Linked DNA regions of Homo sapiens: regions 1, 2 and 4 are each linked to region 3. The links come from fine-mapping of genetic effects on gene expression. A gene starts in region 3. Each other region holds a variant in brackets. All regions are shown on one strand. Distances are from middle to middle. Region 1 has its middle 25 kb from the start of ZNF778. Region 2 overlaps ZNF778 (zinc finger protein 778). Region 3 holds the start of SLC22A31 (solute carrier family 22 member 31). Region 4 overlaps ZNF778 (zinc finger protein 778).

What was found. PIP is the estimated chance that this variant, and not a neighbour inherited with it, causes the effect.
Region 1: its variant is fine-mapped to the expression of SLC22A31 in whole blood (INTERVAL, PIP 0.99).
Region 2: its variant is fine-mapped to the expression of SLC22A31 in caudate (GTEx, PIP 0.96).
Region 4: its variant is fine-mapped to the expression of SLC22A31 in fibroblasts (GTEx, PIP above 0.99).

Annotation. Positions count from the first base shown.
Region 1 is chr16:89,241,423-89,244,105 of GRCh38, forward strand. No RefSeq gene overlaps it. Among named protein-coding and RNA genes, the nearest start is that of ZNF778, 25 kb to the left of the region's middle. RefSeq lists an enhancer at 203-719. The variant T/C (reference allele first, on the strand shown) is at 1,310.
Region 2 is chr16:89,226,886-89,229,568 of GRCh38, forward strand. It overlaps ZNF778 (zinc finger protein 778), which reads left to right. Exons shown (of 7, transcript NM_001201407.2): 7 at 1-2,683. The coding sequence ends at 1,677. Among named protein-coding and RNA genes, the nearest start is that of ZNF778, 11 kb to the left of the region's middle. The variant C/T (reference allele first, on the strand shown) is at 1,302.
Region 3 is chr16:89,199,459-89,202,141 of GRCh38, forward strand. It overlaps SLC22A31 (solute carrier family 22 member 31), which reads right to left and starts at 1,079. Exons shown (of 9, transcript NM_001384763.1): 1 at 1,020-1,079; 2 at 255-358; 3 at 1-109. The coding sequence starts at 1,043. RefSeq lists an enhancer at 1,231-1,853 and a silencer at 2,146-2,235.
Region 4 is chr16:89,232,645-89,235,305 of GRCh38, forward strand. ZNF778 (zinc finger protein 778) reads left to right here. Exons shown (of 7, transcript NM_001201407.2): 7 at 1-2,661. Among named protein-coding and RNA genes, the nearest start is that of ZNF778, 16 kb to the left of the region's middle. The variant C/T (reference allele first, on the strand shown) is at 1,373.

The DNA of each region.
Region 1 (2,683 bases), 42 kb after region 3:
TCGGTTTTTCTGTGGCTAGCGGATGTTTGGCACCATTTCACAGGGCACACAGGGCAGACGGGACCTAGATGACGACAGATCTGCGTGTTTGGGCTCTGTTTGAAACAGACCTCAGCCAGAGTCTTGAAGAGCAGAACCCGGAGTGTTGAAGTCACAAGAGATCAACATCCCTACGGTGTGAAATCCTGAAAACGGCAAATCCCAAAGGACGAAACGCCCGAAAATGATGTCATCCTTTAAGTGTTTTCTTCTTTTTTCTTTTCTTTTTCTTTTCTTTTCTTTTTTTTTTTTTTTTTGAGTCAGGATCTCGCTCTGTCGCCCAGGCTGCAGTGCAGTGCCGCTATCGTGGCTCACTGCAGCCTCAGCCTCCTGGGCTCGAGTGGTCCTCCCACCAGAGCCTCCCACACTGCTGGGATTACAGGCACCAACCACCTTGCGCAGCTAGAGAGTAATTTTTAAACTTCTTTAAAAGACAGTTAGACTGGACATGGTGGCTCACGACGGGAATCCCAGCAATTTGGGAGCTCAAGCTGGGGGGATCGCTAGAGTCCAGGAGTTTGAGACCAGCCTGGGAAACAGGGAGACCGTGTCTCTACGAAAAAAAGTTTAAAAAATTAGCCGGATGTGGTGGCTCACGCCTGTGCTTCCAGGTATTCTGGAGGCTGAGGCAGGAGAATGGCGTGAACCCGGGAGGCGGAGCTTGCAGTGAGCTGAGATCGCCCCACTGCACTCCAGCCTGGGTGACAGAGCTAGACTCTGTCTCAAAAAAAAAAAAAAAAAAAATATATATATATATATATACACACACACACACGTATGTGTGTGTGTGTATATATACATATATATTTACTATATATTTATATATGTTATATATATAAATATAGATAGATGATCAGGAAAGACGTGAGAATGTCTTCAGTTGACACCTCAGGCTGAGCATCAGCACAGAGGCAGCCCACAACAACAAAAAACACAACAGTCAACAAAACCAAAACCCAGCAAACCCTGGGGAATGGGGAGAGTCTGACTTTCAGAGTTATATTATTAGATTCAAACGTCTAATTTTTTTTTTTTTGAGACGGAGTCTCGCTCTGTCGCCCAGGCTGGAGTGCAGTGGCGCGATCTCGGCTCCCTGCAAGCTCTGCCTCCCGGGTTCACGCCATTCTCCTGCCTCAGCCTCCCGAGTAGCTGGGACTACAGGCACCCGCCACCACGCCCGGCTAATTTTTTTTGTATTTTTAGAAGAGACGGGGTTTCACCGTGTTAGCCAGGATGGTCTCGATCTCCTGACCTTGTGATCTGCCCACCT[T/C]GGCCTCCCAAAGTGCTGGGATTACAGGCGTGAGCCGCTGTGCCCGGCCTCAAACGTCTAATCTTTAACAAAAGTTCCAAGCGGGCCAAGGGCACAGATGCTGCCTGCACCTGCGCAGCCACCCACCGTCGACAGGAGAGCAGAGGCACCAGGCCTGCTCCCACCACAGAGAGAAACGGGCTCCCCAGCCCAGCTCTGGGCTGGTCAGCAACCCCCACTCCCCACCCTGCCTGCTCAAAAGAAAGGGTCCTCGTGCCTCCAGCCCCCTCCACCCTCCCTCCAGGACCTTCCTGACCATGCGCTGGGCCTGTGCAGGTGTTGAGCCACACCCACGCCCTTCCAGGGGGCGGGGTCTCGAAGGGGAGAGCAGGTGCTATAGTCAACAGGAGGGAGGGCTTCTGGCCGAGGTGGCAAGGAGGCTCCAGGAGGAGAAGACAGTGTTGACCTGGGGCGTTGAGGGATGAGGAGTCCTGTAGGCAGCAGTGGAAAGGAAGGTGCTCCAGACAGGGGGCCTCGGGGAACAAGGGGATGCTGGAGTGTCACTGGTGATGAATCTGTTCGGGTCTGCAGCAACCTCAGTTCTTGCCTCCTTAGAAGAAAGAATTCAACCGAGGGGCATAAGGCAGAGGGAGAGACCGAGGCACGCTTCAGAGCAGAAGTGAAGTTTATTAAAAAGCTTTAAAGGAGGAAGGAAAGTACGCCTGGAAGAAGGCTAGGAGGGCACCTTGAAAGACCAGTGTGTGGTTTGACCTTCTGACTTGGGGTTTGATACAGTGACATAATGCGGGGTCTTGTGTTACTTCTCCCCACCCACCCAGCTCCTGAGATCTTAACGGGAAGCTGCTGATCACCAGCTTCAGCTGTTGTCTATCTGTTAGGAGGCTGTCTTTCCCTGGCGCTGGCTGTGACCAATTATTACTTTAGAGACAGTTAACAACTACCTGACCATCACCTCATGGTGGCCAGCACACCTGTTGTGTGTGTGTGGTGGTGGGGAGCCCTCTCCTGCCCTGCTCATACCCCCTAGCTACCCACACTAACATTTCCCCCCGCAGGAGGCCAAGACCCCAGTTCTTGAGGGAAATGGACAAAGGTCAGTCTTCTGTAACTGCTGTCTGCTGACAGAGGGGCAGCGGTGGTGGTTCTGTGAGTATTGGCCTCTTGCTGTCAGGGCACGGTTGGCTCCATGGGTTAGTGAAAGTGGTGGCCAGCCAGGGAGCGGTATCCAGGGAGACGGGCAGGATTGTGCCTCTGTCCTGTCCCCCTGATGGGCAGTCCAGGGGTCCCCTGTAGAAGGGTGGCTCTTGAATATTGAGAGGACCTATCTCTCACTGAGGACCACCTGGAGATTGATGACCTGAAGGCAAGAGGAGA
Region 2 (2,683 bases), 27 kb after region 3:
TTGGGTCAGTGTGGAAAAGCCTTCAGCTCTACTCCAAATGTTGTTTCCCAGCAAGCATGCACTCGGGACAGATCTCTTGACTACAGCAGCTGTGGGGAAGTGTTCCTTAATCAGTCATACCTTCAGGCACGTGCGGGAAGTCACAACGGAGAAGAAACATGGAAATGGAAGCCGTGTGGGAAAGCTCTAACTCACTCCATGGGCTGCGCCACACCTGTTGAAATGCATGCCGTCAGGAATCCCCACGTATGTAGGGAATGTGGGAAGGCCTTTAGGTACACTGCCTACCTTACTGGTCGCGTGCAAGTCCACCCTGGGGAAAAGCCCTGTGAATTGGAAGAATGTGGAAAAGCCTCCCCTGTTTCTTCCAGCCTAACTCAACATGTAAGAATTCATGCTGCAGAGAAACCCTGTGAATGTAAAGAATGCGGAAAAGCCTTCACTGGACTCTCAGGTCTTTCTAAACACGTCCAAACAGACCCTGGACAGAAGCCCTATGAATGTAAGGACTGTGGGAAAGCCTGCGGTGGGTTTTATCTACTGAATGAGCATGGAAAAACTCACACGAGGGAGAAGCCCTTTGCATGTGTGGTTTGCGGAAAATATTTTAGAAATTCCTCATGCCTTAATAATCATGTTCGAATTCACACTGGAATAAAACCCTATACATGCAGCTACTGTGGGAAGGCCTTCACTGTGCGCTGTGGCCTTACTAGACACGTACGAACACACACGGGCGAGAAGCCATACACGTGTAAGGACTGCGGGAAAGCCTTCTGTACATCCTCGGGCCTTACTGAGCATGTAAGGACTCACACTGGAGAGAAACCATATGAATGTAAAGATTGTGGGAAATCCTTCACTGTTTCTTCAAGCCTGACTGAGCACGCGAGAATCCATACCGGAGAGAAACCCTACGAATGTAAGCAGTGTGGCAAAGCCTTCACAGGGCGCTCAGGCCTCACTAAACACATGCGGACACACACCGGGGAGAAGCCCTATGAATGTAAGGACTGTGGGAAAGCCTACAATAGGGTTTATCTACTGAATGAGCATGTGAAAACTCACACAGAGGAGAAGCCCTTTATATGTACGGTATGCAGGAAATCCTTCAGAAATTCCTCGTGCCTGAATAAGCACATTCAGATTCACACTGGAATAAAACCTTATGAATGTAAGGACTGTGGGAAAACATTCACTGTTTCTTCGAGCCTAACCGAGCACATACGAACTCACACTGGAGAGAAACCTTATGAATGTAAAGTATGCGGAAAGGCCTTCACCACATCCTCACACCTTAT[C/T]GTGCACATAAGAACCCACACCGGTGAGAAACCCTACATATGTAAGGAGTGTGGGAAAGCCTTTGCTTCCTCCTCACACCTTATCGAACACAGAAGGACTCACACAGGAGAGAAACCTTACATATGTAACGAGTGTGGGAAAGCCTTCCGTGCCTCCTCTCACCTGCATAAACATGGAAGAATTCACACTGGGCAGAAACCCTATAAATGTAAGGAATGTGGGAAAGCATACAATAGGTTTTATCTACTAAAAGAACATTTAAAAACTTACACTGAAGAGCAGGTTTTTGTATGTAAGGACTGTGGAAAATCTTTTAAGAATTCCTCATGCCTTAACCATCACACTCAAATTCACACTGATGAGAAACCTTTCTAATGTAAAGAATGTGGGGAAGCTGTCAGCTACACTCATTCACGTTGAAGACATGAAAGACCTCTCGTTCTCCAGATGTCCATGACTTGAGGAATGTGGCTAGGCAATCAGCATCTCATCACAACCCGGCAGGCAGGAACTCACCCTGGAGCCCTATGCAGCAGACACAGAGAAAGCCCTCAGTGTTCTCTAAGGTCTTGCTGAATATGGATGGTATCCAGTAGAGAGAACTCTATTGATGTGTGATATGCAGCAGCATTGTTGCTGTTCTGCTCAGTACTTTGATGATCCCTTGTGATCTCACAATGAAGAAAAACCTTAGGAGGGTGAGAATTGTTGGGAAGTCATTTTTTACATTACATCTTTCCTCACCCTTTAGTAAACGTGGTGATTGACACTTGAAGTGTTGTGAATGTATGGAAGATAGCAGTCGCTTCCCTGTGTTCTAAAACCTTGTGGGCTAACTTGAGACATGTCTTTCTGGGGGTTCTGTAGACGTATTTTGAATCTTTATGATGCTGCACTGATCATTCTTGGAGTGAGGACTCTGTTCCCTGTAGAAATCCTCCAGTCTGGTTGCTACAGTGTCCACGTCGCAGCCTGGCTAACAGTAGGCCTTGAGGACTCAGATGTGATCCTGTGTGAGCAGTGTAGGCTCTGGTTGGTTAGTCTTGAGGATCCAGATGTGATTCTTTGAGCAGCGTAGGCTCTGGTTGGTTAGTCTTGAGGATCCAGATGTGATTCTGTGAGCAGTGTAAGCTCTGGTTGGTTAGTCTTCAGGATCCAGATGTGATCTTGTGTGAGCACTGTAGGCTCTGGTTGGTTAGTCTTGAGGATCCAGATGTGATTCTGTGAGCAGTGTAGGCTCTGGTTGGTTAGTCTTGAGGATGCAGATGTGATTCTGTGTGAGCAGCGTAGGCTCTGGTTGGTTAGTCTTGAGGATCCAGATGTGATTCTGTGAGCAGCATAGGCTCTGGTTGGTTAGTCTTGAGGATCCAGATGTGATTCT
Region 3 (2,683 bases):
GAGTAGGCGCAGGACCAGCAGGGTAGGGAAGCTGGCAGCCAGGGCCTCACTGGCCCCCAGGCCTGTGGTCAGCACCAGGGAGGCCACAAAAACTGCCCGGCGTCCAAACCTGGTGGGCAGCGGGGGACATGCTTGGACAGGGTCAGGATAACCCAGGGTCCAACCTTCATCCTGGCAGCACCAGGTCTAGCTGAACCCTGAGAGTGGGCGGAGGGGAGGGCTGCTGGGCAGCAGGAAAAGGGAAGGGGCCTCACCGGTCACAGCCTGCTCCCAGGATGACACAGCCCAGCAGCCAGCCCAGGAGGTGGCTCACCTGCTCCAGCGGGACCTTCCAGCCGTCTCCACACACAAGGTTCCACTATGGGGAACAGCAGCCACGTGGAGGCCAGCTCAGGACCCTCCCCTGGGGACAGGTGCAGGGAGTCCCAGAATGGCTACTGGAAGGGGCCCTCCATGTCCTGCTCAATCCCTCCGTGGAGAGAAGGGGAAACTGAGGCATGAGAGGGCAAGGGGCTTGGTCCAGGTCACACAGCAGCCTCTCTGGTCTCCGGCAGCCCCTGCACAGGGGTCGGGGGGATCTGCCCACCCTAAGTTTTCTGCTTGTCCCTAGATAGGGCCTCCCCCACCTCCGCACACCATTGCTCTTCCCCCACGGCCAGCTCTTGTCCGACCCGTTTCCACCTCCTATTCCGAGGGACCCCGGGGACACCCAGGGCCTTGGTGGCGTCATAGACACAGCCCCCACCCCAGCCGGCCAAGGGTCATAGCCATGACACAGGCCTAAGAAATGAACCCCAGCACCTGCGCTGGTACCCACGCCCTCCCTGCCCTGCCCATTTCAAGAGGGACTCGGGCAGCGGCTGGAGAGCTGTGCTCAGCGGCATTTCCCGGTGAGGCCCTTGACCCTTGACCTCAGCTCTGCGCCTCCCCCCACCCCTTCCGGTTCCTGGGTCTTCTTGGCAAGCTTAATCTACTGCTGGGGGCCGTGCTATGCCCGAGATTTTACTTTCAAACCTGACGTTTTGGGAAAGCTGATGGGGCATTCCTGGATCCAGGCACCAAACAGGAGGAGGGCAGGTGGGAGGTGGGAGGGAGCAGGGTGGAGAGAGAAGCCCGGCGGGTTCCAGGGCCCCAGGCAGCCCTTGTGAAGATGTGGCAACCCCGTTCCAGTTTCCACACTGGGGCCAGTCCTCCCAGGATGGGGGATGGGGGCCTCGGGGTAAAGGCTGCCTCAGGGGTGTGCAGGTCTCAGCCCCAGCGCGGAAAGGCATGAAAGGGGCCTGGAGGTCCCTGCCGCCCGCCTCCCCATCTCTTCTCACGCAGATCGTCAAGGTTTCCCTTCAGGCAATGCAGTCTCTAGCCCAGCCTCTGCGCACCTCACTGATGGGAAGCCCACCTTCCCCAGTCTGTGCTGACCACGTCAGTCCCTCCAAGCAGAGACTCTGCCTTGGAAAGCCAGCCCAAAGCCACGGTCTGCTGAAGACGCTGGTGGTCCTGAAGCAAATTCCAGGCCCTGCTCCCCCACCGGCGCCTTCGGCTCCAATCCTCCAGCGCCCCAGGCCGCCCCGCGCCTGGCAGCTCCCAGGCCCAGATTCAGCCCCCGCCCGGCCCCTCTCCGCGGGTCCGGCCCGTGCGCGCCCGTCTGCGGCACCGTCGGGCCGGCGGCCGCCCCGGAGCAGGAAGCCCAGGAGGACGGCCGGGGGGCCCGGGTCAGAGGCGCCAGGTAGGATGGAGAAAGGACACCCAGGGCCTCGGCGGGCTGGGGGCGGGGAGGGCTGCGGGGCAGCAGGGACGGGGGCGCACCTGGGTGACCGGGCTTTGCAGGAGGCCGGCGCCGGGCAGCGCGTAGAGCCAGCCGCGTGTGCAGGGCCGGGTGCCGTTGCGTGCGGGCGCGGGGCGCGGGCCCGGGGCGGGTGCAGGGCGCGGGATCGGGGTAGCGCAGGAGCAGGCAGGGGCTCGCGGCTCGCGTGGGCCCCAGGCGCGGGATGGCGGCGTCCAGCAGCGCGGGTCCGCGCAGGGCGCGCAGCGCTGGGGGCAACAGCGTGGGGTCCGGTCGGCAGTGGGGCGCGGGCTGCGCGGTAAGCAGCTCCTCGGAGCTCAGCACCAGCCCCAGCACTATGCAGGGTACCCACGAGGCGGAGGCCAGCAGGCGCCGGGCCCGGCCAAAGCCGCCCGCAGCTCTCAGCACCCGCGCCTCCTGCTCCATCGGTCGCAGGCTGCGCTCGGGACGGGGCGGGGCCTGGACCAGGGCGGGCTCCTGGGGCGGGGCTTTGGGGCGAGGCATTAAGGGGCGGAGCCTGAGTCCAGTGGAGGCGGGGTGTGGGGGCGGGCGGTGTGAGGGCGGGGCCTAAGGCGTAAAGGGGCGGGGCCCGATCTGGGGCATAGGGCGGGGAGGTTGAGGGGCGGGAAGGTTGAGAGGCGGGGCTTGCGGCCGAACCGCGAGGGGGCGGGGCCCCGTGAGGGCGGCACGTGGGGGCCGGGGGCGTGGCAGGGGCGTGGCCGGGAGCGCTCAGGTGCCCTCGCGGCGCAGGTGCACTCAGGTTGCCCGGGGGCGCGCGGGCTCCGGCCGGCGTCCCGGGGTGGTCCCCGCGTGGGGCCGGGGGCGTCCGCGCGGGCGGGGCGAGGTCGGGGAGGGCAGCCGCCCGCCCTCCTCGGCGCTGGGAGCTTTCGGCTGGTACTGCGG
Region 4 (2,661 bases), 33 kb after region 3:
TTTTTTTTTTTTGTTAGGGTACATTTTCATCCTGGGGTCTTGCTGTGGGGGCTAGACCGTCCCTCTCAGGCTAGATCATTCCTAAAGATGGTAAACAACTTGCTGGAAACATGCACTGCATATACAAATCAACTCACTGCATATGCACATCAACTCACTGCATATGCAACTCAACTCACACCGTATATGCAACTCAACTCACACCGTGTATGCAAATCAACTCGCACTGCGTATGCAACTCAACTCGCACTGCGTATGCAACTCAACTCGCACTGCGTATGCGAATCCACTCACTGCCTATGCAACTCAGCTCGCTCTGCGTATGCAACTGAGCTCGCTCTGCGTATGCAACCCAGCTCGCTCTGCGTATGCAACTCAAGTCGCACTGCGTATGCAACTCAGCTCGCTCTGCGTATGCAACTCAGCTCGCACTGCGTATGCAACTCAGCTCGCACTGCGTATGCAAGTCAGCTCGCTCTGCGTATGCAACTCAGCTCGCTCTGCGTATGCAACTCAGCTCGCACTGCGTATGCAACTCAGCTCGCACTGCGTATGCAACTCAGCTCGCTCTGCGTATGCAACTCAGCTCGCTCTGCGTATGCAACTCAGCTCGCTCTGCGTATGCAACTCAGCTCGCACTGCGTATGCAACTCAGCTCGCTCTGCGTATGCAACTCAGCTCGCTCTGCGTATGCAACTCAGCTCGCACTGCGTATGCAACTCGCACTGCGTATGCAACTCAACTCGCACTGCGTATGCAACTCAACTCGCACTGCGTATGCAACTCAACTCGCACTGCGTGTGCAACTCAACTCGCACTGCGTGTGCAACTCAACTCACACTGCGTATGCAACTCAGCTTGCTCTGTGTATGCAACTCAACTCGCACTGCGTATGCAAATCAACTCACTGCATATGCAACTCAGCTCGCACTGCATATGCAACGCAACTCAACTCATACTGCATATGCAACTCAACTCACACTGTATGCAACTCAGCTCGCTCTGCATATGCAATTCAACTCGCACTGCGTATGCAAATCAACTTACTGCATATGCAACTCAACTCACTGCGTATGCAACTCAACTCGCACTGCATATGCAACTCAACTCGCACTGCGTATGCAACTCAACTCGCACTGCGTATGCAACTCAGCTCGCACTGCGTATGCAACTCAACTGTTGCAAGTACTTATTTCCGGCCACTTCCTTTTTCTAACTACCACACCAAGCCAGTATTTCTCCTCCCTGAAGTCAGCCCAGGATGAGGCACTAGACAGCAGGACATGCTGTATGCCCTTGGGCCTGCTGGAAGTATGCAGACTAGCCAGCCCCAGACTTCATCCTGCCCTGTCCTGCCTTTCCTGTGAAAACC[C/T]TGTGGCCTCTGCCTCCCCTGGCTCTGACTTCTGCCTCCTGCCCAGCTCTGCAGCTCCCCTTGGGCCCTGCCTGGAGTGATGTGCCGCCTTCTCTTGACACTGTGAGTGATAAACTTTCCATGTCAGGAACCTGTGTGTGTCACTCACTCACCTTGACGAGTCCGCGTCTAGGCCCCACCAGTGGTGTGGTTTTCCTCATAGTCTCTCTACCTAAGCACATGTCTGTGACAAGGTCTTACCCAGCCCAGGGATTCTTGAACTATCTGTAGGAACTGCCATGTTGACTCCTGGGCAGTTTTATTCTTTCTCTCTACTCGTTCAACCTTCTTAGGGAGTGACGTTTTTTCCAAAGTGGTTGTGAAACAGCATCTCCTTGGGGTGTTGGTTTGCACTTCTCTTCATTACTGATAGTATGAACATGGTTTTGCTTACGCTGGCTATTTTCCTTTTTGGATGAAGTACCTGGTCTTGTTTTTTCCTGGTTTGTTTGATCTTTGTTCTTTTTTAGAAATAGTGAGGCTGTTGTGAGGTGAGTCACCACTTGTGACTTAGAAGATTGCAGTGGTTTCCACTTCACCTGTTTCCACTTTTGTGATGATGCCTTAAGGAAAAAGATTGTGCCAGGTGTGGTGGCTCAGGCCTGTAATCCCAACACTTTGGGAGGCCGAGGTGGGTGGATCACAAGGTCAGGAGATCAAGACCATCCTGGCCAACATGGTGAAACGCCATCTCTACTAAAAATAGAAAAATTGGCTAGATGTGGTGGTGCACGCCTGTAATCCCAGCTCCTTGGGAGGCTGAGGCAGGAGAATTGCTTGAAGATGGGAAGCACAGATTGCAGTGAACCGAGATCGCGCCACTGCACTCCAGCCTGGCAACAGAGTGAGACTCTGTCTCAAAAAAAAAGGAAAAATATTTCTTAATTTTGGCATACTCAAATTTATACAACCTTTCCTTTATCTTCATCAGAAATTTCTTTTCTCCTAAGGCCTTAAATATGCTGTACTATTTTGGCTTCCACAGTTTCTATGTTTTATCCCAAGTTGCTTAATCCATTTGGAGTTGATTTTTGTTGACCGTATCTGTAGAGTGTAATGTCATTTTTCCCACTATGGACATAAAAATTTTTGCAAGGCCTCTTTTTTTTAATGAAGAAAAGAGGTTTATTTTGTTCACAATTCTGAAGGCCTGGAGGGTCCCAGAAGCTTGGCACCAGCACCCACTAGGCTCCAGATCGGGGCCTCATGCTGACTTCCGTTTTCACACAACGAGTGGGAAACAGGTGTCC